Linked DNA regions of Homo sapiens. The protein of the gene in region 2 purifies or fractionates together with the protein of the main gene of each other region. This does not show direct contact. Each region holds a gene or a part of one and is shown on either strand. Other genes may lie near its edges.

What was found.
Region 1: the proteins of ARHGEF1 (region 2) and LMNB2 purify together in Homo sapiens (affinity purification with mass spectrometry; 2 studies listed by BioGRID, with this or other methods). This does not show direct contact.

What each region holds. Positions count from the first base shown.
Region 1 is NC_000019.10:2,445,162-2,456,734, forward strand, and holds part of LMNB2 (lamin-B2), read right to left. Parts: coding exon 11,509-11,573; intron 1-11,508. UniProt on the Homo sapiens protein: Lamins are intermediate filament proteins that assemble into a filamentous meshwork, and which constitute the major components of the nuclear lamina, a fibrous layer on the nucleoplasmic side of the inner nuclear membrane.
Region 2 is NC_000019.10:41,884,219-41,895,791, reverse strand, and holds part of ARHGEF1 (rho guanine nucleotide exchange factor 1), read right to left. Parts: exon of another isoform or gene 11,325-11,573; coding exon of another isoform or gene 11,299-11,324; intron 7,729-11,298; coding exon of another isoform or gene 7,710-7,728; coding exon 7,686-7,709; intron 7,601-7,685; coding exon 7,514-7,600; intron 7,041-7,513; coding exon 6,927-7,040; intron 3,768-6,926; coding exon 3,669-3,767; intron 3,462-3,668; coding exon 3,419-3,461; intron 3,190-3,418; coding exon 2,943-3,189; intron 2,519-2,942; coding exon 2,489-2,518; intron 1,586-2,488; coding exon 1,486-1,585; intron 1,342-1,485; coding exon 1,245-1,341; intron 1,167-1,244; coding exon 1,131-1,166; intron 444-1,130; coding exon 306-443; intron 1-305. UniProt on the Homo sapiens protein: Seems to play a role in the regulation of RhoA GTPase by guanine nucleotide-binding alpha-12 (GNA12) and alpha-13 (GNA13) subunits. Acts as a GTPase-activating protein (GAP) for GNA12 and GNA13, and as guanine nucleotide exchange factor (GEF) for RhoA GTPase.

The DNA.
Region 1 (11,573 bases), about 39 Mb from region 2:
CCCCCTGCCCCCACCAGCCTTTGCAACCTGGAGTCCCCTCCCAGACCCCTCTGGGCCCCTGAGACTCCCCCCAGGCCTCTGCAACCTGGAGCCCCCGCTCCCCCAGACCCCGCTGAGCCCAAGATCCCCCACTTCTGCCAACCGGGGGCCAGCCCGTGCCCCTCTGTGCCCCTACCTCACACGCAGGCACATGGCCCAGGCTCAGGCTGGGCTGTTCCCTGGGATGGAGGGAGGAGCATCTGGCCTTCCCATGCTGTGTCCCCCCGACAGGCCAGCTGCCAATGTGGTGGCTCGGAGGCTCCAGGACAGAAGCTCCCACCCCTCAATCACAGAGATCTGCAGTCAGAGTCCCCAGCTCCCCACCCCACCAGCGGCCCCCACCTTTCACCCCTCGATCACAGGGATCTGTAGTCAGAGTCCCCAACTCCCCACCCCACCAGCGGCCCCCACCTTTCACCCCTCGATCACAGGGATCTGCAGTCAGAGTCCCCAGCTCCCTACCCCACCAGCGGCCCCCACCTTTCACCCCTCGATCACAGGGATCTGCAGTCAGAGTCCCCAGCTCCCCACCCCACCAGCGGCCCCCACGTTTCACCCCTCGATCACAGGGATCTGCAGTCAGAGTCCCCAGCTCCCCACCCCACCAGCGGCCCCCACCTTTCACCCCTCGATCACAGCGATCTGTAGTCAGAGTCCCCAACTCCCCACCCCACCAGCCGCCCCCACCTTTCACCCCTCGATCACAGGGATCTGTAGTCAGTCCCCAGCTGCCCCCCCCAACCAGCCGCCCCCACCTTTCACCCGTCGATCACAGGGATCTGTAGTCAGAGTCCCCAACTCCCCACCCCACCAGCTGCCCCCACCTTTCACCCCTCAATCACAGGGATCTGTAGTCAGAGTCCCCAACTCCCCACCCCACCAGCCGCCCCCACCTTTCACCCCTCGATCACAGGGATCTGTAGTCAGTCCCCAGCTGCCCCCCCCACCAGTCACCCCCACCTTTCACCCCTCGATCACAGGGATCTGTAGTCAGAGTCTCCAGCTCCCCACCCCACCAGCGGCCCCCACCTTTCCCGACGGAGACCCAGCCCAGCCAGCAAGGACATGGGGAGGGGCTGGAGAGCCAGGGGTCACCAGGGCAGGCAGAAGCGACTGGAACACCCTCTGGGCCGCCCAGCTAAAGAAAGCCCCTCCCTAAGCCCCGCGCAAAGCCCCCAAACCCGCCCCTCTCGAGGGCCTCCAGGTGAACTCGAGGCACATGCGGTGCCAGGGAAGGCGACCTCTTCACTTCCTACTAATCCTGCTGCAACCACAGCCGCCACCTGCCCGGCCTCTGCACGCGCCAGCTGGGGGCACAGCTCAGGCTTCTAGTGGCCTTCCTGCCTCCCCTCCTCCCACAGGGCCATGCACTCAGTGAGTTTAAAAATATGTGGAAGCAAACCGCAGTGAGATGCCACTTCGCACCAGCCAGGGCGTCCGTCAAGAAGACAGACAGTCGCAGGTGCGGGCGAGTACGCAGAGAAATCGGAACCTCACAGGCAGCGGCAGGAACCTGAGCTGAGACAGCTCTACAGAAAACAGTCCAGGGGCTCCCCCAAGAGTCACAGAGCCACCCTGTGACCCGGTAACTCCACTCCTGGGTGTGGACCCAGAAGACATGAAATTCACATCCATGCATGTTTGAAAACTACACATGGTGCCGGGCGCAGTGGCTCACACCTGTAATCCCAGCACTTTGGGAAGCCGAGGCGGGCGGATCACAAGGTCAGGAGATCGAGACCATCCTGGCTAACACAGTGAAACCCCGTCTCTACTAAAAAAACATACAAAAAATTAGCCAGGCGTGGTGGTGGGCGCCTGTGGTCCCAGCTACTTGGGAGGCTGAGGCAGGAGAATGGCATGAACCCGGGAGGTGGAACTTGCAGTGAGCCGAGATCGCACCACTGCCCTCCAGCCTGGGAGACAGAGCGAGACTCAGTTTCAAAATAAATAAATAAATAAATAAAATGAAAAATAAAAATAAATAAAAAAATAAAAGCAATGCGGTCCCTCCACCATCCACACACAGGAACATGACCCAGCTGTGTAACGGAGCAAGGTTCTGACACCACAGTGTGGATGCCCCTTGAGGATGTCACACTCATGAGACGCCAGACACAAAACGCCACACAGTGTGTAATCCCATTTCCATGAAATGTCCAGGTCAGGCCAGTGCACAGACACAGGCAGCGGGTGTGTGGGCAGCGGGGCTGGAGAAGGGGACGGGGAGTGACCGCTGAGGGGGACAGGCTTCTTTTAGTGGGGATGAACGTTCTAAAATTGGACACATTGGTGGTGGCACAGCTGTGGAGATATGAAAACGCGAAACCTACGGGTGAGCTGGGTGAACCTTATGAGGCGGGAATTAACTGCTCCGGCTCTGGCGCTGAGGAAAAGGAGGACCGGAGGATGGTAGGCGGAACCAGGCCCAGCACCACCCGCTAGAACGCCGTGATGTTCCCACAGCCCTACAGGGCCAAGGGTGTCTATGCAAGGTGGGTACAGGGTCGGCCTGCATCTGGAGGGCCACACCCCCATGTTACAGGCGAGGCTCCTGTGCAGAGGGCTGGGGGCCTGCCAGGACGCACCCCTTGGCAGTGACCGGGCCTCTTCTGAGGTGGGACCCTCAGCCTCAAACCAACGCATGCTGGGCCATCTGGACAAGTCAGAGTCTCAGGCTGCCCCAGCACCGCAGCTCCAAGTCCCGTCAGCCTACAGTGGGGCGGGATAAGGGTTCCCAACCTGATTTTATGTATGGGAAAACTGAGGCACGGGTCAGTAAAAAGCCGCCTCCTGACCACCGCTGGGTCCTAGACATATCAGGTCTGCGGGGACCAATTGTAGGACGGGGACCCACAGAGGCAGCAGTGCAAAGCGAGCTCCTCCCGCGGCACCCCGGCCACCCCCAAGCCCTCCCTCCCATGCAGGCGATCATCTGGGCCGTGCCCTCCACATCTGTGTCCTGGGAACAGACTTCTAGAAAAACCCAAATCAGGAAAAAGCGGCCAGCTCCACGCTGCAAACAGCTGGGCACCAGGTGCAGGCATGGTGGTGTCTGCCTCTCCCTCAAAGCTCCCAAATACCCCTAACCTCAAGGGAGGGGCTGACGGGACACCCTCAGGATGGGGGTCACACACGAGCTCTCCTGTCCCCACAGAGAGAGAGCTGACTGCGGCTCACGAGGCAGAGGGGCCAGGATGAACAAAACAGCAGAGTTTCCAACAAAGACAAGATCAGCGCCGGGACACACAGGAGCCCGTTCAAGGTGAGAAAAAACAGCAACTCTGCAATGGCAGCCACACGCACAGAGGCATGCTGAGCACCCCCAGACCATGTGCACGGCGGTCCTGTAAGACTCTAATGCAAACCTGGCATGGGGGCTCACCCCTGTCATCCCAGCACTTTGGGAGGCTGAGGTGGGCGGATTACGAGGTTAGGAGATCAAGACCATCCTTGTTAACACGGTGAAACCCTGTCTCTACTAAAAATACAAAAAAATTAGCCGGGCATGGTGGCGTGCACCTGTAATACCAGCTACTCAGGAGGCTGAGGCAGGAAAATTGCTTGAACCCAGGAGGCAGGGGTTGCTGTGAGCCAAGATTGGGCCATTGCACTCCAGCCTGGCGACAGCCAGACTCCACTTCAAAAAATAAAAAGAAAAAGAATCTAATACCATATTCTTACTGCACCTTTCTTGTGTTTATTTACTTATTTTGAGACAGAGCCACACCCAGCCTGGAGAGCAATGCCGCAATCACAGCTCACTGCAGCCTCAAACTCTGGGCTCAAGCAATCCTCCTGTCTCAGCTGCCCCAATAGCTGGGACTATAGGCACACATACTACTATGCCTGCCTAATTAGTTTCTAACTTTTTTTTTAAGAGATGGGGTCTTGCTATGTTGCCCAGGCTGGTCTCAAACTCCTGGACTCAAGCAATCTGCCTGCCCCAGCCTCCCAAAGTACTGGGATTATAGGCGGGAGCCACCGCACCCAGCCCTTTCTCGTGTTTAAATGCTCACATACTTACCATTGTGTAACCGGTGCCCACAGCATTCCACAGAGGAGCGGGCGGTGTGGGTCTGTGGCCTAGGAGGCCACGCCCAAGCCTGGGTGTGTGGTGGCTTCCACCATCCGGGAGTGTGGGAGTGCACTCTACCATGCCCACACAAGGGGCACGTCTCCTAACGACACGCTTTCCACAAGGTATCCCTGTCACTAAACGACACCTGACTTGAATTAATAGTTTGTTCATTGTAGATTTTTTGAATTAATTGATTTTTAAAAGATAATCCATTAGGGCCCGGTGCGCTGGTGCATGCCTGAAATCCCAGCACTTTGGGAGGCTGAGGCGGGCGAATTACTTGAGGTCAGCAGTTCGAGACCAGCCTGGCCAACATGGTGAAACCCTGTCTCTATTAAAACACAAATTAGCTGGGTGTGGTGGTAGGCGCCTGTAATCCCAGCTACTCGGGAGGCTGAGACAGGAGAATCACTTGAACCCGGGAGGCAGAGGTTGCAGTGAGCTGAGATCACGCCACTACGCTGCAGCCTGGGTGGTACAGAGAGACCCTGTCTCAAAAAAAATATACATATGTCTGGGCGCCGTGGCTCACGCCTGTCATCCCAGCACTTCGGGAGGCCAAGGCAGTTGGATCACCTGAGGTCAGGAGTTCGAGACCAGCCTGACCAACATGGAGAAACCCTGTCTCTACTAAAAATACAGAATTAGCCGGGCATGGTGGTGTATGCCTGTAATCCCAGCTACCCAGGAGGCTGAGGCAGGAGAATCGCTTGAACCAGGGAGGCGGAGGTTGTGGTGAGCCAAGATCACGCCACTGCACTCCAGCCTGGGCAACAGAGTGAAACTCCGTCTCAAAAAAAAGAAAATAAAATACATATACATATACATATATATATACACATATATATATATATTCCATTAAAACATTACTCATCCCATCGCCCCAGCGTGACGATGAGCAAAACAACACACAAACCCCCATTGAGGAACATCCTACTGCACACCTGCCCAGCCCGCTCAGGACCAACCAGAACCTCTAACCAGGAACGTGGGGGAAACTATCAGCCTGGAGGAGCCTGGGAGACAGTGACGTAGTCACTAAATGTCACGTGAGATAGTGGATGGGGTCTTGGGGCAGGAAAGGACATCGGGGAAACTGAGGAAGTCTGAATACATGATGGATGTTGCTGGGAGCAGTGGCTCACAGCTGCAGTCCTACAACTTTGGGAGGCTGAGGCAGGAGGATCAGCCTGCCTCAGCCTTCCAAAGTGCTGGGATTACAGGCATGAGCCACCGCACCTGGCATAAGATGATGGGAGGCTGAGGCGGGCAGATCACCTGAGGTCAGGAATTTAAGACCAGTCTGGTCAACATGGTGAAACCCCATCTCTACTAAAAACACAAAAATTGCACCATTGCATTCCAGCCTGGGCGAGCACAGGGCAAGACTCTGTTGCCCAGGCTGGAGTGCAGTGGCATGATCTGAGCTCACAGCAACCTCTGCTTCCCGGGTTCAAGCGATTCTCCTGCCTCCCAAGTAACTGGGACTATAGCCGTGCACCACCACGCCCAGCTAATTTTTGTATTTTTAGTAGAGACGGGGCTTCACCATGTTGGCCAGGCTGGTTTCAATCTCCTGACCTCGTGATCCGCCCACCTCGGCCTCCCAAAGTGCTGGGATTATAGGTGTGAGCCACTGCGCCCAGACGGTTTTTACATTTTTAAATGGCTAGGGGTAGCCAGGAGAGGTGGCTCATGCCTATAATCCCAGCACTTTGGGAGGCAGAGGCTGGCAGATCCCCTGAGGTCAGGAGTTCGAGACCAGCCTGACCAGCATGGTGAAACCCCATCTCTGCTAAAAATACAAAAATTAGCTGGGCGTGGCAGTGCAAACCTGTGATCCCAGCTACTGGGGAGGCTGAGGCACAAGAATCGCTTCATCGCCTGAATCCGGGAGGCAGAGGTTGAAGTGAGCGGAGATTGTGCCACTGCATTCCAGCCTGGAAAACGAGACTGTCTCAAAAACAAAAACGATAAAGGCCAGGGGGGAAGATGAAGAGACTTTGTGACACAGGCAGATTCTATGCACTTCACAGTTCCATGTGTATAAATAAAGTTTTATTGACACATAGCAGCACCCACTTATTCACCTATGGGCTAAGGCAGCTTTCATCCTATGGCAGAGCTGAGTGGTTCAGATGCAGACAGTCTGGCCTTTTTTAGAAAAAGTCTGCTGACCATGCCTGGTCTGCCGTGCTGTGATGATGAGGAAAGTTCTAGAGGCTGGGGCACCTCACAAAGACCCTTTGAGCCTGCGGAACGGGTGTGCCGGGGCAGGACGGCCTCCTTGTGCTTGTGAGGCGCTGCAAAGGGCTGGGGACAGGCTGGGCCTTTTCTTTCATCTTTCACGGCATCTAGCAAGTGCTAGGCTTGAGGGAAGTCAACAAGTGTGTCCACACATGTGGGCCTGGCAGGGCTCAGATAGCCTGAGATGGCCTTTGCCTGGGACCCCTCGGACACACAGAGCAGCATAACTCGGCTGGAGGAGGCCACGGTGGGACAAAATGGCCCGGCTAAGAACTACAGCCCTGTGCAGAAAATGCAAACACCGGCTTGGGGTCACTTCCAAAGTGGACTCCATCCTCCACGCTCGCCTGGGCCGCCTCCGAGACCCCCTCCAGCAGCCCTGAGCAGCCAGGGGACACCGGGGCAGGGGAAGACAGAAGATGCCGAAGCCAGGTCTCCTCCCTCGGGAACGTAAGGCCTGGCAGGGAAGTACCTGGAGTACCTGCCTCTCCCGCGCCTGGACACGGGCCACAGCGCGGCCTCCCTGCACCTGCCCCCGCCCCCAGCACTCAGTGATCCTCCTTCAACAAATACCCATCTGGCCAGCCCCCACCCCACCCTTTCCCAAGCCCTCCAACGATGCTTGTATATGGCGATTCATCCACACCGCCAAAAGACACCCCCTAGTGTCACATGGGAATGTGGAACCCATGCTTGGCCTGGTTTTGTACGAGTGTGCAAGGGTGAACTCCTGCGGGCAGGAAAGAAGTGAGCAAGTTAGCCGGGCATGGTGGTGGGCGCCTGTAATCCCAGCTACTCAGAAGGCTGAGGCACGAGAAGCCCTTGAACCCAGGAGGTAGAGGTTGCAGTGAGCCAAGATCACGCCACTGCACACCAGCCTGGGCGACAGAGAGAGACTCTGTCTAGAAAAAAAAAAAGGCCAGGCATACTGGCTCACACCTGCAATCCCAGCATTTTGGAAAGCTGAGGCGGGCAGATCACAAGGTCAAGAGATAGAGACCATCCTGGCCAACATGGTGAAATCCCATCTCTACTAAAAATACAAAAATTAGCCGGGTGTGGTGGTACACGCCTGTAATCCCAGCTACTTAGGAGGGTGAGGCAGGAGAATTGCTTGAACCTGGGAGGCAGAGGTTGCAGTCAGCCGAGATCACACCACTGCACTCCAGCCTGGGCGACAGAGTGAGACTCTATCTCAAAAAAGAAGTGAGAAAGGCGTGTGTGAGGACCTCGGGGGCCGCCACACACCAGGATGCTGTGAGTCGTGTTATGAGCCTGAAAAAATCTGAACTGAGTCCCTCACGCCTCCCAGCAGGCTCCTCGGCCTGGCCATTCTCATGGGGGCCGTGTTACCCTCATGGAGGCTGCGTCATCCTCGTGGGGGATGGGTCATCCTCATGGGGGCTGCGTCATCCTCATGGGGGCTGGGTCATCCTAATGGGGGATGGGTCATCCTAATGGGGGCTGGGTCATCCTAATGGGGGCTGGGTCATCCTCGTGGGGGCTGGGTCATCCTCGTGGGGGCTGGGTCATCCTCATGGGGCTGGGTCATCCTCGTGAGGGCTGCGTCATCCTCGTGGGGGCCAGGTGATTCTCTTCTCGGGGCGCTGAGCAGTACCCAGCCTCCACCCACGCTGTGCCGATGCCGTCTCCCTCCCAATGTGACAACCAAGGGCATGCCCAGCCTTGGCCAAGAGTCCCCTGGGGGCAGAAGCTGGCCAGGTGAGAGAGGCCCTGCTGTCCAGGTGACCTGCATGCTCTTAGGCCTGACACCCCAGGTCCCTCCTCGTTCAGAGCTCCCTCCCCTGCCCCCATCCTGCCAGCCTGAGCCTGAGGCTGCTCTCTGAACCCCACGTGGCCCACCTGTGTCTAGAAGGCCCCCAGCTATTCCAGGTCACTCCCTCCATGTGGGCCCACATGACGTCCCCCCACCAGCGGCCCCCACCCCAGCAGGCTTCCAACTCTGCTCCCCACTAGCCGGGTTCCTGGCCCACTAGTCGCAGGCGGAACTCCCAGCTGTCCCCTGCCACATGCCCTGCAGACACGGCTGGGTGACAGGGCTCACGGAGGGGCCAGTGTGTCACCTGCTAAATGGCTGCCTTCACTGGAGTCAGACCCGCATTTCACCCAGCCTGAGTGAACTGAGTTGTAAAGGATGCTGCTGCGGCCCCGAGAGGTGGCTGGGCCAGGCTCCCTCTAGGGCACAGGGCCGGTCCAATGGGGCGTCCAGTGGGGCTGGGGCTGGTACCTCCCCAGCACTCACCAGGCCCTGCACCCTCAAAGCTCCCTGCAGCTGTTCGTCCCATTGGCAGGTGGGATAACAGAGGCCCAAAGACAAGAAACCAGCTCTAACCCTGCACGCCACGGGTCCAGCAGGCGGCCTCTAAGTTGGGACAACTCCGCACTGGACAGATGGCAAGATGGAGGCTCCAAGAGACACAGGGGCCTGCCCAAAGCCACACTAATTGAAAAGCAGGGGACTGGCCAGGCACGGCGGCTCACACCTGTAATCCCAGTACTTTGGGAGGCCGAGGCAGGCAGATCACCTGAGGCCAGGAGTTTGAGACCAGCCTGACCAACAAGGCCAAACTCTGTCTCTACTAAAAATACAAAAATGAGCCGGGCATGGTGGTGAACACCTGTAATCCCAGCTACTCGGGAGACGGGGGCAGGAGAATCACTTGAACCCGGGAGGCAGAGGGTGCGGGGAGCTAAGATCGCGCCACTGCACTCCAGCCTGGACGACGGAGCGAGACTCTATCTCAAAAAAAAAAAAAAAAAAAAAGAAAGAAAAGCAGGGGATCCCACCAAGCACTGATCTTCCTTCTACCTCCCTGAAGGCACCAGCTACATTCTTTCAGGTTCCCTGTCCCCAGGGCACTGTGAAAACAACCCACAGGGAGCTACTGAACAAAAGTTAACCTGCTGTGGCCCCACACACAAGTAAGAGGTGGGTATTATAATTACACCCATTCCAAAGGCGAGGGCACTGAGACCCAGAGAGGGTAAGCGACTAGCCCAAGGTCACACAGAGGGTAAGTGGCTCCCAGAAATGACCCGACCCCCTCAACAAGCAGCTCTTCTCCCAGAAGCCCACCACGTCCTCTGATCTCCAGATGGGCGAGTGGGGACTGGGCGCTGCAAATCCCGACTTCGGCACCCAGCTCTCCCAACAGGACACTGGGGCCTAGGGACCCCAGGACCCCAACCCATGGCAGGAATCAAGTGGGTGCTCCTGCCTGCCCCCCGTTCTGGAGTCCTGTCCTTGGATTGGGCATGGCCAGTGGGAGGGACAAAGAGCCTCCCCAGGGTTAGGTTGGGGGGCAGGACAGATTGCACCCAGACCCCAAGACACCCCGACCTCATGTCCCCTTGGTGGGCAGACTTTCCCGCCTCTTCTCCTTCAGTCTGCACTGAAGCCTCGGGGCCCATTCAGAACCTCAACACTTTCCACCGGACCCAAGATCCCAACTCTCACCCTTCCTTCATATTCTCTTGGGGGCAGAACCTGCCAGACCACCGCTGACACCAGGGCACAAATAAGGGACTCCCAAATTTCCCGTGGGACCCCAAGGTATCAGAACCTCTCCCTCGGCCCCCTACCCACCCTGGGCCTGGTGAGAGATGAGGGGCCTAATTCCCACCCCAGTCACCAATCTCTTCTGGATTCATCAGGGAACTCGCTAAAGCTCCAGGGAGAACTGAGACCACGTGACTCACCCCAGAGACTCCAGGGAGACCCCCCACACACCCCATCTTGGGCCTCCTCAGAGGGCCTGGGCCCCCCAGTCTCCTTGGAGCCCAGAGACCACCCCCATTCCACCCCAGATACCCCAATACCCAGCTTCATCCCCAGAGACTCCCACTCACACCCCCTCAGTTGGGGGGGGTCCGCCAAGTCTCCTTGGAATCCTCTGAGGGACGAGGCATATGGGGGGCTGCAGCCCAATACTCAGGGAGCCCCCAAATCCCCAGGACCTCTCTTTGGTGGGGAGCCCTAGTCTGTAACCCCCATGGCCCCAAAATGCACCTCTCACGGAAGGGTCCCCAGAGCTAGCTGGAGGCCCCTCTGCAGCCCTCACTCAGGACACGGAAGATCTCCTGGGACCCCCTCCATAGGTGGGGCATTCCTGGTCTGCACTTTTCACTCAGTGCCCTAGAAACCCCCTGGAGGTCCCCAAGAGAATGGGCCACTCCGGTCTGCACCCCTCCCAAGGGGTCCCCCAAGATCTCGGAAACTGCGGTGGGCAGGGCCTGCCCAGGTGGCACCCCTCACTCAGGGTCTCCCCCTGGAGATCCCCGAGGCCAGGCTGACCCCACCCCTGCTCAGGGTCCCCCGTGATCGCGTACTCCGCGGTGGGCTGGGCCTGGCCGAGCTGCACCCCTCACTCAGGGACCCCTTGAAACCCCCTGGAGACCCCCAAGCCGGGACCCTTCCCGGTCTGCACCCCTGCCCAGGGTCCCCGCGATCGCGCACCCCGCGGTGGCCAGGACCTGCACCCTTCATCCAGGAGCCCCCCGCAAACCCCCTGGAGACCCCAAGCCGGGAGTCGTTCAGAGTCCCCCGCGATCGCGCGCCCCGTGGTGGGCGGGGCCTGGCCGAGTAGCACCTTTCACTCAGGGACTCTCCGAAACGCGGCGGAGATCCCCGAGGCCGGACTGTCCCCGTCTGCATCCCAGCTCAGGGTTCCCCGCGACTGGGAGCCCCGCAGTGGGCTGGGCCTAGCCGAGCAGCACCCCTCACTCAGAAGCCCCCAAACCTCCTGGAGACCCCCGAGCCGGAGCCTGTCCCCGTCTGCACCCCCGCCCAGGGTCCCCGCGATCACGCACCCCGCGGTGGGCGGGGCCTGGCCGAACTGCACCGCTCACTCAGGGGCCCCTCGAAACCCCCTGGAGACCCTCGAGACCCGGGCCCGTCCCTGTCTGCACCCAGGGTCCCAGCGATTGCCCACCCCGCGGTGGGAGGGACCTGGCCGAGCTGCACCCCTCACTCAGGGGCCCCCCGAAACCCCGCGGAAACCCCCGAAGCCGGGGCCCGTCCCCGTCTGCACCCCCGCCCAGGGTCCCCGCGATCGCGCGCCCCGCGGTGGGCGGGGCCTGCCGGCTGCACCCCCGCCCGGCCCCTAAGCCCCGGCGCCCACCTCGCGCGTGGTCACCTCCTCCTTCTCTGAGATCTTGAGCAGGAGCCGGTCGTTCTCCAGCTCCA
Region 2 (11,573 bases):
TGGTCATGTACTCAGGGAAGGTTCTGGAAAAGGAAGGGTTGATGGAAAACGTAGTCCAAGGGGGTGGGAGACGCAGCACCAGCAGAGAGGTCAGAGCCTGGGAGCAAAGCTGTGGAAAGGGCAAACTGAGGGAAGGGGAAAGTTATGAATGACAGTGGTGACCAGGAGCAGGGAGAAGTGGATGCTGAGAGCAAAGGGGAGGTGTTGCTGGGGAATGGCTTCTATCTGGGGGTGCCAAGGGGGCAGGCAGCACCCCCACCCTGGATCGCCGGGCCTCATGGAGCCCTGGCCCAGGAAACTCTCACCTGGTTCCCGGTCTGGGCTGTCCAGGGACAGAGGGTGCAGAGAGACTCCAGGGGTGTCCTGCCCAGGAGCCCCGATATTCCGGTCCCGAGAGGGCATCCCCACGCCTCCCTTCCGGTCTGTAGCACCTGGCTTCTCGGCTGGGGAGACAGTGAGGGAGAAAGAGGGAGATAAGAGAACAGTAACTCAAATCCACAACCGCCAGGGGATGCAAGAGGCTGTGCTCAGGCCCTTCCCCACCATGACAAGGAGCCCCTTCCTCCCTCAGACCCAGGAGCCCTCAACCCCTCCTCCCTCAGACACAGGAGTCCAGGCCCCCAGCCCCTCCTCCCTCAGACCCAGAGGTCCAGGCCCCAGGCCTTCCTCCCTCAGACCCAGGAACTCCCCCAGCCCCTCCTCCCTCAGACCCAGGGGTCTAGGCCCAGCCCTTCCTCCTCAGACCTAAGAGTCCGAGTCTGAGCCGCTCCTCCCTCAGACCCAGGGGTCCAGGCCCAATCCCTCCTACCTCGGACCCAGGGGTCCAGGCCCCAGGCCTCCCTCCCTCAGACCCAGGAGCTCCCCCAGCCCCTCCTCCCTCAGAGCCAGGGGTCCAGGCCCAGTCCCTCCTCCCTCAGACCCAGGGGTCCAGGCCCAGCCCTTCCTCCCTCAGACCCAGGAGCTCCCCCAGCCCCTCCTCCCTCAGACCCAGGTGTCCAGGCCCCCATCCCCTCCTCCCTCAGAACCAGGCGTCCAGGTCCCAGCCCCTCCTCCCTCAGACCCAGGCGTCCAGGTCCTAGCCTCTCCCACACAGGCCCCCAGTATGGATGCTATGGCTACAGGTACATTACCATCAACCTCTGCTTTGAGGTGTCGAAAATCTGGAACTGAAACGAGAGAGAATGAGACAGTGAGTGGGAGCAGCTGGGGAAGACAGGGGAGGGCAGAGGCCAGAGCCGCCTTACCCTGGGGCTCTCCCCGGTTCCAGCGGGCGGCATCCAGGATGCTGCTCAGCCCCTTCTTGGTCTTGGCAGGCTCGTCCGACCGCCGGTTCCCCATCACCTGTGAGAGGGCGGGGAGGAAGACCAGGCTAAGCATCTCTGAGACAACAACAAAGCAGAATTTGACGCTAGGTATCCAGAGTCATGAGGCTCCCAGGGCGTCTCTGGAGAGGAAAGGGTCAGGACGGGGCACTGAGGGAAGCACCTTTTTCCGGAAGAAGTTCCTCCCCGACTTCTTGTCTCCACTCTTGGTCCGCACCCCAAGGTGGCGCATGTACAGGCCAATGGCGTTGACCACGGCAGCACTGTAGGGAAGGGACAGTGAGGGCTCAACACACACAAAGACACACACACACACACACACACACACACACACTCACACACACACTCTCTCTCTCTCCCCCTAGAGGCAGAGGCCCGGCCTTCCCATCCTGACCCCACAACTACTTCCTGTGAGACTCTGAGGAGAGATGAGAGGGTTCAAAAGGACAGGGGCAAGGGCTGTTACCCAATGCCCAGGACCCAAGTGTCCAGGCCCCAGGCTCCTCCTCCCTCAGACCCAGGAGTCCAGGCCCCCAGCCCCCTCCTCCCTCAGACCCAGGAGTCCAGGCCCCCAGCCCCCTCCTCCCTCAGACCCAGGAGTCCAGGCCCCCAGCCCCTTCCTCCCTCAGACCCAGGAGTCCAGGCCCCCAGCCCCCTCCTCCCTCAGACCCAGGAGTCCAGACCCCCCAGCCCCCTCCTCCCTCAGACCCAGGCGTCCAGGCCCCCCAGCCCCCTCCTCCCTCAGACCCAGACGTCCAGGCCCCCCAGCCCCTTCCTCCCTCAGACCCAGGAGTCCAGGCCCCCAGCCTCCTCCTCCCTCAGACCCAGGAGTCCAGGCCCCCAGCCCCCTCCTCCCTCAGACCCAGGCGTCCAGGCCCCCAGCCCCCTCCTCCCTCAGACCCAGGCGTCCAGGACCCCAGCCCCCTCCTCCCTCAGACCCAGGCGTCCAGGCCCCCCAGCCCCCTCCTCCCTCAGACCCAGGCGTCCAGGCCCCCCAGCCCCCTCCTCCCTCAGACCCAGGCGTCTAGGCCCCCCAGCCCCCTCCTCCCTCAGACCCAGGCGTCCAGGCCCCCCAGCCTCCTCCTCCCTCAGACCCAGGAGTCCAGGCCCTCAGCCCCCTCCTCCCTCAAACCCAGGAGGCCGCACGCCTCCCCTGCCCCCCTCACCTCTTTTCTTCGTCGGTAGAGATGGTATGTCTGTAGGAGGAAGAGAGATGTTTGTGACATATTTGCTAGGCCTGGGGTCCCCATCCACCCAGGATACATCTCAGGGTTGCTGTCCTGGGATAGGCAGGGGGAAGAGAGACAGAGAGGGGACACTGTGGAAGGGATTGGGAAGGACTGTCATAAGAGGGAGGGAGGTCTCTCATCCAGGAGGATGGGATCCAAGTGCCAGATCATGGACAAGACCCAGAAATGACAAGGGAACCCCAAAGCTGGAAAGGGAAGACTCGGATTCAAGGTGAGTTAAAACACCAGGGTAGAGGAAGACCCCCAGTGCCAAGAAATGAACTCTGACCCTGAAGAGGGAACCTGCAAACGGGATGGAACATGCCAGAGGTAGCACGGGTGCCCTTGTGCTGGGGAGGGGCGACGCTCCCACCAGGGCTGGCCTACTCACTGCATCTCCTCCAGGTGCATGAGCAGCCGCTCCGCCACGTGCCGCTCCCGGGCCTCGTAGCTGGCTCGGTCCCGCCCAACCCAAGCCTCCAGCTGGGCCAGCTCCTGCTCCCAGGGCGTCATGCCCATGAGCCGCTTGGAACGGAAGTCCTCCAGCTGCCGGCCCACGGCTACCTGCTGGCTTTGCACCACCTCCTGCACGAACCGCCGCTGGACATCCTCGGAGATGAGGTCAGCCCTAGTGCGGTCTGCAGGGACACACATGGGGGCTAGGGTCCAGCTCCCTGGTGGCTTGGACCACGGTCCCCACCCACCCTTGGACTCCAACAGCCACACGTCCTGAGGCCGCTGCCAAGAAGGAATGAATGAATCTCGGCTGTCCGAGCAGAGCATGGGAGTGCGGCCTCCCTCCCCTTGGCCTCCTGGGAGGTGTGGTCCCCGCTAGACACCTCTCCCTCATCCCATCCTTCTCCTTACCAAGTTCAAAGGCGACGTTGGGAGGGACCGGCACCCGGAGAACCTGCTCAAGAGAGAGAATGGGGTGAAGAGGAGGACTTGGTGTGCTGAGATGCAGGCCGGGAGGACTGCCAGGAACCCTGGTCTAAGCGAGGGTGCTGGGGAAGGCCTGGGTCAGCAGCTGCCCTCAGGGCAGAGGCTGGGGACCGCATGGTGACTCTGCAGGCCCAAACAGGGATTGCAGGGTTGGGGCAGCTTGAAGGTCTCTCACCGCTGTCTTCTCCAGGAAGCTGTGGTAGAAGTCCAGGAAGGCCTTCTTGGCCTCCTTGGGGCCCAGTGAGCCCAGCATGTCGGCATGCAGACAGCAAAGCTGGGGGAGACACACAGCATGACTCTCCGCTCCCTCACCCTGCCTCAAACCACACTCTCCCTTTGAAAAGGGCCTTCCTCACCTCCTGGCCATCCTATGGCTGTGGGACTCAACTGCCACTTCCTCTGGGAAGCACTCCCTGACCTCCACCCCTAAAGCCAGGCCCTGGGTTCCCCTGCAGGCTCCCTGGGGCTGCCATGAGCATTTTCTAATTTTCCATCCTGTGCTATGGTCCTTTGTGGTTCTTCATCATGGTCTCCTCCCGGCAATAATGACAACAACTACTACTACTGTCTATACTGACGGCTTAGTGTATACCAGACACGGCTCTACACCCTCTACATGCATTAACGTGTTCAATCATAGGGACCGTCATTATCCCCATTTTACAGATGAGAAAACGGAGCTCAAGAAGTTTAGTCAAGCTTAGTCGCACAACTAGGCTAGGCACAGTGGCTCACACCTGTAATCCCAGCACTTTGGGAGGCCAAGGCAGGTGGATCACATGAGGTCAGGAATTTGTGACCGGCCAGGCCAACATGGCGAAACCCTGTCTCTACTAAAAATAAAAAAATTAGTCGGGTGTGGTGGTGGGCACCTGTGATCCCAGCTACTCGGGAGGCTGAGGCAGGGAGAACTGCTTGAACCCAGGAGATGGAGGTTGCAGTGAGTGGAGATTGTGCCACTGCACTCCAGCCTGGGTGACACAGAGCGAGACTGTTTCATAAATAAATAAATAAATAAAACCCAAAATCACATAGCTACTAAGTGGCAAAGTTAGGATTCGAATCCAGGCAGCCTGTCTCTACTACACTCCACTGCCTGGAAAGACTGTGAGCAGCTTAAGGGTTTGTGTGTGTTGAGGGGTGTTGTAGGTTGATCCATCTGTGTCCCAGATGGTGGTGCCTTGTGCATACTGAGGGCTTGGAAAGAACAGGTGGACAAGTGGGGCTCACTCTGTCATTCGTCAAGCATTTCCTGAGTGCCCGCCCCTGTTCTGGGTGACAGTGGGGACTCCAACCTGTCCTGGCTCCTGGGGGCTCTCATCTGGGAAATGAACTCACTCCAATGGGAGTGGGACTTTTTCTCCTTTTTCTTTTTTGAGATGGAGTCTCGCTCTGTCACCCAGGCTGGAGTGCAGTGGCGTGATCTCGGCTCACTGCAACCTCCTCCTGGGTTCAAGCGATTCTCCTGCCTCAGCCTCTGGAGTAGCTTGGATTACAGGTGCCTACCACCAGGCCTGGCTAATTTTTTTTTTTTTTTTCCGCCTAGGCTGGAGTGCAATGGTGCAATCTCGGCTCATTGCAACCACCACCTCCCAGGTTCAAGTGAGTCTCCTGCCTCAGCCTCCCGAGTAGCTGGAATTACAGGTGTGTACCACTGTGCCTGGCTAATTTTTCTATTTTAGTAGAGATGGGATTTCACCATGTTGGCCAGGCTGGTCTTGAACTCCTGACGTCGGGTGATCCACCTGCCTCAGCCTCCCAAAGTGCTGGGATTATATGCGTGAGTCACTGCGCCTGGCCAATTTTCATATTTTTAGTAGAGACGGGGTTTTACCATGTTGGCCACGCTGGTCTCGAACTCTTGATCTCAAGTGATCTACCCACCTCAGCCTCCAAAGTTCTGGGATTATAGGTGTGAGCCACCATGCCCGGCCCCACTTTTTTTTTTTTTTCAAGACAGGGTTTCACTCTTGTCGCCCAGGCTGGAGTGCAGTGGTGCAATCACTGCAGCCTCAACCTCCCAGGCTCAAGCTATCCTCCTGCCTCAGCCTCCCAAAGCGTTGGGACTACAGTCATGAACCACCAGGCCCGGTCCTCCTTCTCCACTTTAAACAGTTTTAACACATCTATATCCACTCTTCACACCCCCCAAATATAGCAAAATTCTAAGACAGGCCAACAGGAAGCTGCCCAGGGGACCACAGCTATCTCTGATCGGCTCCCCACAAGCTGATGAGGTGAGGGAGCTATGCGAGAATAAACCTCAAAATGCCCAGAGGCCGCCGGGGTCACCTCAGGCAAGTCCCTGACCCTCTCTAGGCCTCGGTTTCCACATCTGTAAAAGAACATGGTAGTCAGCACGATCCCTGGGCTGATGTCCACAATCTGGTGTTCTAGAAACCCCAAGGCTTGAATAGGGGACTCCCTTGCTCAGAGGGCCAGAGTCTCCGTGCATGTGGTTGTCGGGGGAACCACTCTTCTGGAAAGAGAATGTAGACAGGGGAAAGACTGCAATTTCCTAATTTTCTGCATATCTGATGGTTTGGCGTCCGGATGACCAGCCTCTGGTCTTGCAGCTGACATGTTCTTCTTTCTGCATGCCTCGGGCACTTCTCCCCACTCTATCGGTTTCCTTGTTTTCTGGAGGGGTCCACTATGCATGTCCACATGGTGCAGTGCCCTGGCTGTCCCCAGGCTGTCCTCCTATCCTGTGCTGGGCTGGACGGGGTCTTCTTGGGATGAGACCCTTGTCTACAGATCCCCTGCCAGCCAGCACTGTGGCCTCTCCCTTTCTAAATCACCTGCTGGGTTTTCTAGACTCTGCGGGTGTTTCTGGATGGCACGGTTGTCCATCCACATCTCCCAGGTATCTTCTGCCTCATCCGGAGGCTTCTGGATCCACAATTGTGTGGTCTGCCTTGTGAGCTGTGTGTGGTGGTTTTCTTGTTTCCAGATCAGGGCCTGCTGTGCTCCCTAGACCTGGGATGGCTAACAGCTTCTTTTTCCCAACCATCAACCGTGAATGACTGCGTGCTGGCATCTGCCAAAAAGGCTTTGGAGAGAAGAATTTGGTCCCCTAGAGTTCACGGAAAGGTGCTGCCACAGGCTGATGGGGGCGCTGCCACAGGCACAGAGTGGGATGGGATGTGGTTTCTGCCAGGCTGCTGGACTCTCTGTGGCTCCGCGGGGTCCTGACGTGTGTACCCTGCCCGCTGCGCACTGAGATCTACCCTGGGCACTTGTAAGCCTGTTGAGGTCACGTGGCATGCTTTCTGGCTCTTGTCTAAAGCATTCTCTCTTTCTAGATCTGGCTCTCTGTGTTCTAGATCTGCTTTTCCAGACCCTCCAGGCACTAGCTCGCTGGTTTAATTCGCTAAAAGCTGTGCCTGTCCCAGCCCCACCCCTCCCTGTGCCCACCCAGCCCTGCCCTCACCAGGGGTCCTGGCTCAAACTGCAGGGCCACGTGCTGCAGGAGGGCCATGAGGTGGGCTGGGCGCCGCTTCACCTGCTCCAGGCTCTGGAACTGGCTGTTTTGCTCTTCTGAGTTCTGGGGGTGCAGGAAGGGGTGAGTACAATGGGGAGAAGAGGAGGGGCCTTAGGGTTGACCCTACCCATTCCTGGCACTTCACAAGGGATCCAAGCCAGGGTTAGCTCCTGGGAAGTGGGGAGTGGTGACAGTGTCCAAAAAATGATGGTGACAGCAAGGGCAGGTGTTCAGGGAGAATGGATGAGACTTAATATTATAATGGTGGATGATGAGGACAGAAATTAGGAGAGAAGAAATTGGGGTCCATGCTGGGGGAGGAGAGAGCAACGATAAGAAATGGGGTTAAGAGTAAGAAGGGTGGGCGTCTATGCTGCTGTGTGGGGTCGGCGAGGTGAGGAAGGAGGTACCAGGGAGATGAGAGGATGAGACAGACCGTGGGAAAAGGCCAAGAAGACAGCATCTGCAGGTGGGAGGGGACCTGGGGCGGGACACTGAGCCTGGGACAGAGCTTTTCCACCCTATCTCCCACTCACTGTCTCCAGCTCGTTCTCAAAATCCTCATCCTCAGCCCCGATGATGCTGACGGGAACCAGGCCAGGCCGGGAGGGGCCTGGGGAGGCCTGTGGAAAGGGAGGGCAGCTTCAGTCCACAGGACTCTCCACCCACAGCCCCAGAGTCGCCTCACCCCTTGCTCTGTCCACTCACCGCCCCTCGGGCGAAGTCTTCCATCTCCCTGGGCTCTGCAGGGCTGGAGGAAGAGGAGGGGCTGTGGTTAGGAGGGTGGGAGGAGGCGGCCCAGGGTGGTTACTCACAGATTCCTGGCCCAGGTGTGAAGGTGAGTAAACAGCCTCCCCCATCCCAGCCTCCGCAGCTCAATGGGGCCTCTGTGTGGCCACAAAGAGCCCTTCAGAGACCCGCCAGGGGGCGGGAGCCCAGGGACGGGAGCCTTGCGGGGGCAGGCGTTGGAGGCTCAGGAGCCTGGGTCCATGGGAAGGCTGAGTCTGACAGCCTGCAATCTGGGGTCCCTAATGCCCTAATGGAAGAGGGGGCTGGGGGCCTGGACTCCCAGGTTGGAGGGACCAGGGGCCTGGGGGCTAATTCCTGAGGGCACAGCCCAGAGGCAAGAGGGGATGGGAGGGTTAGAGGAGAGGCGGGAGAGAAGTGGGGTGCAGGGGTCTCCTCTGGTCTGTGACAGGCCTGGGACAGGATGTTGCCTTGGAACCCACCAGCCCCACTTCCTGTGACAGGAAGTCACAATGGCAAACCCCCAACCCCCAACTCTCCACATAAGAAAACAAAACTCAGAACCCTCCTCCCTCAGGGACTGGGAGTCCCCAAACCCAGAAGTTCTTCTTTCCCCCAGGGACCTCATCTCTTCCCAGGCTTCCAGTCCCAGAAACCAAGTGATGGGGCCTCAGACAGCCCATCTCCAAGGTGCGTCTGTCCCCTCCACCCTACGTGCGCCTTGGTCTGTCCGCAGCCAGCTCTCCTTGGCTGTCTGTCCCTTGAATCTGTCTCATGTCTTGGTCTCTTTTCACCCTGTTTCCTGATTTTTCTCTTTCCCTTCCTCCAGAACTGTCTCATTTTCCCCACCATCCCTGCCTCTCCTCCCTCCATCTCTCCCTCTCAGCGGTGACACCCCCTTCCTGCTTCTGTAGCTCCGTCTGTCCTGTCCCTGTCTCTGTGCCTCTGTCCTCCCACATCTGGTTTCTGCAGCCACCATCCTCACACCTCTCTGAGTCACAGTCTCATGTGCTGTCTCTCATCTCTCCATCCCTTTTTCTCCCCCATCTCTTGCTGTCTCTCCCATCTTTGTCTCTCCTTGAGTCTCCACTTCTCTCTGAGTCTTTCCACCGACATCTTCTGTGTCCTTAATTAGTCTGACTAATGCCACGGAGCCCGTGTCAGGTGGGAAGGAGCTGTGGAAAGAGGGGTGGGGTGGACCAGCGGCGGGGCTCCCCACAGCCCAAAGCTATTTATAACCCAAGCCAGCAGAGACCCGCCCTTCTCCTGCTTTATGGGCCTCCTCCCTAGCTCCCCAGTAAATGGTAACCAGGATTTTGATGATTAAACAATGATGCTTTCTGGAGTGTCCAAATGCCACCCTGTGGGTCCACCTGGGGAAGGCATCATTTTTATTATTTCCCACAAAGTGTATTGTCCAATATCTAAGCTTGGGCAATTCAAGATTCAAGTACTGTTAAACATTCACTTTAATAAATTTGCAAACTGGCCAGGTGAGGTGGTTCATGCCTGTAACCCCAGCACTTTGGGAGGCCAAGGTGGGAAGATCGCTTGAGCTCAGGAGTTTGAGACCAGCCTGGGGAACACAGTGAGACCCTGTCTCACTATGAAACATGACCACGGACGTGGAGGGTGCATGCTCATCCCACTCAGAGGTAGAAACGCTCAACTGAGGCAGGGAAATTTTAAAAAGGCAAAGGAGGGGATACTCATTATCTTTGCAAGTGCTTGGTGCCAGGTCTGGAACTGTGCACTTGCCAAGTTCTTATCTCCTTATTCCTTATCACAATAATAATGAAATGACAGCTGACACAAAAGAGACACTTAGTATGTGCCAGGCATGGCATCGCTGGTTGACAGGTAATAACTCATTTAATCCTCTCGGTGACTCCAAGAGATCATTATTATTCTCACCTCCATTTAACAAAGAAGGAAACTGAGGCACAGCTCATAAGAGGCAGAACCAGGACTCAGACCTGGGCAGTTGGGCTACAGAGTTTACGCATTTAAAATAAACTGCATTTGGTGGACACAGTGGCTCACACCTGTAATCCCAGCACTTTGGGAGACCAAGGCAGGTGGATCACTTGAGCTCAGGAGTTCGAGACCAGCCTGGCTAACATGGTGAAACCCCCATCTCTACAAAAGATAGCCAGGTGTGGTGGTTCATGCCTGTAGTCATAGCTACTTGGGAGGCTAAGATGAGAGGATCGCCTGAGCCCAGGAGGCAGAGGTTGCAGTGAGCCAAAATTGTGCCACTGCCCTCCAGCCTGGGCGACAGAGTGAGACCTTGTCTTAAAATAAAATAGGCTAGGCACGGTGGCTCTCGCCTGTAATCCCAGCACTTTGGGAGACCAAGGCGGGCGGATCACGAAGTCAAGAGATCGACACCATCCTGGCCAACATAGTGAAACCCTGTCTCTACTAAAAATACCAAAATTAGCTGGGCGTGGTGGCACGAGCCTGTAGTCCCAGCTACTCGGGAGGCTGAGGCAGGAGAATCGCTTGAATCCGGGAGGCGGAGGTTGCAGTGAGCTGAGATCGCGCCACTGCACTCCAGCCTGGTAACAGAAGTGAGACTTCGTCTCAAAAATAAATAAATAAATAAATAAAACAAAATAAAACAGAGAGCATTGCTTCAGAGCATGGGGAGCCCCCACCCTACCCTTCAGAAACTAAAATCTGAACCAAAGCTCTGAGACACATCATGTCTTCTTATGGATGCCTGGAAAAGTCACGGGTATGTGGTCACTATGGCCTAGGCAGGAGTGCAAGTTGGATACGGCTGCTCCACAGAGGCTTGGGGGTTGGAGATGATGGAGGCGAGGAGTGTCGCCTGTTTAGGAGGAGGGGTTTGGGGGAGTCCCACAAAGGCTGGAGAATTATAGGTGAAGCTGTCAGAGAATAGATGGATCTATAGGCAACTGACAAGGCCTGGGGGGTCCAGCAGAGGGAACACTGCGTGCATGGGGCGCTGGGGGGTTAGGGCTGGTTTAGAAGGTCCATGGGTTGGGGGGCCACATGGGTGTTGAGTTCTATGGAGGTCTCAGGGTCTATAATGTGTTGAGCAGGTGACTCAGGGTCTCCAAGAACTTCTGGAGCCTTAAAGAACCTAAAAGAGTCGTTGGAATGTGTAACTCCCCAGATTCTATTTGACACACAGTGGGTCTAAAGGATCCAGGGATCATACAGGATCATGATTCTATAGGGACAGCTGCCAGTCTGTGGAACCTCTGGAGACTTAAAAGGGACTCAGAATTCCATAGGGGTGCGTGGTGGGTCCCGAGACCCATGGTCTATAGAGCCCCGGATTCTAGGGGATGCCACTGGTCTATGAGGACCCCACGTCTATAAGAAGCCAGTTCTCCATGGGGGGCTGGCAGGAACCTGGAGGGTCTGTAAGACTTTATACGGAATGAGGCGGGTCTACACGAGACCCAAATCTTACATGGACGTGGCGGGTCTTACGCGGGCCCTAAATCCTACGGGGGACGTGGCAGTGTGCACGGCCAGGGATGCCGGGGAGGACGTGCAGAGTCAGGGTCTGACACCCGCTGGGGACCGCGTCCCTCACCTGCTCCAGGTGGAAAGAGAAGCCATCGCCGCCACCGGAACCGAAGCCTCCGCGCTCGGGCTCCGCACTCTCCCCACCCCTGCCGCCGCGTCGCTCTAGCCGCCCTGAGTCCACCTTTGCGCCCAGCTCCACTCCTCCTGCCAGCCGCTCTAGCCCGGCTCCTGCCGGGCTCCGGCCCCGACGACTCTACTCCTCCCGCCGGCCGCTCTAGCGCTGTACTGCGCCACGCAGGCCAGATAGGGCCGCTCTGGCCTGTCTTGGAGGGCCAGCGTTTC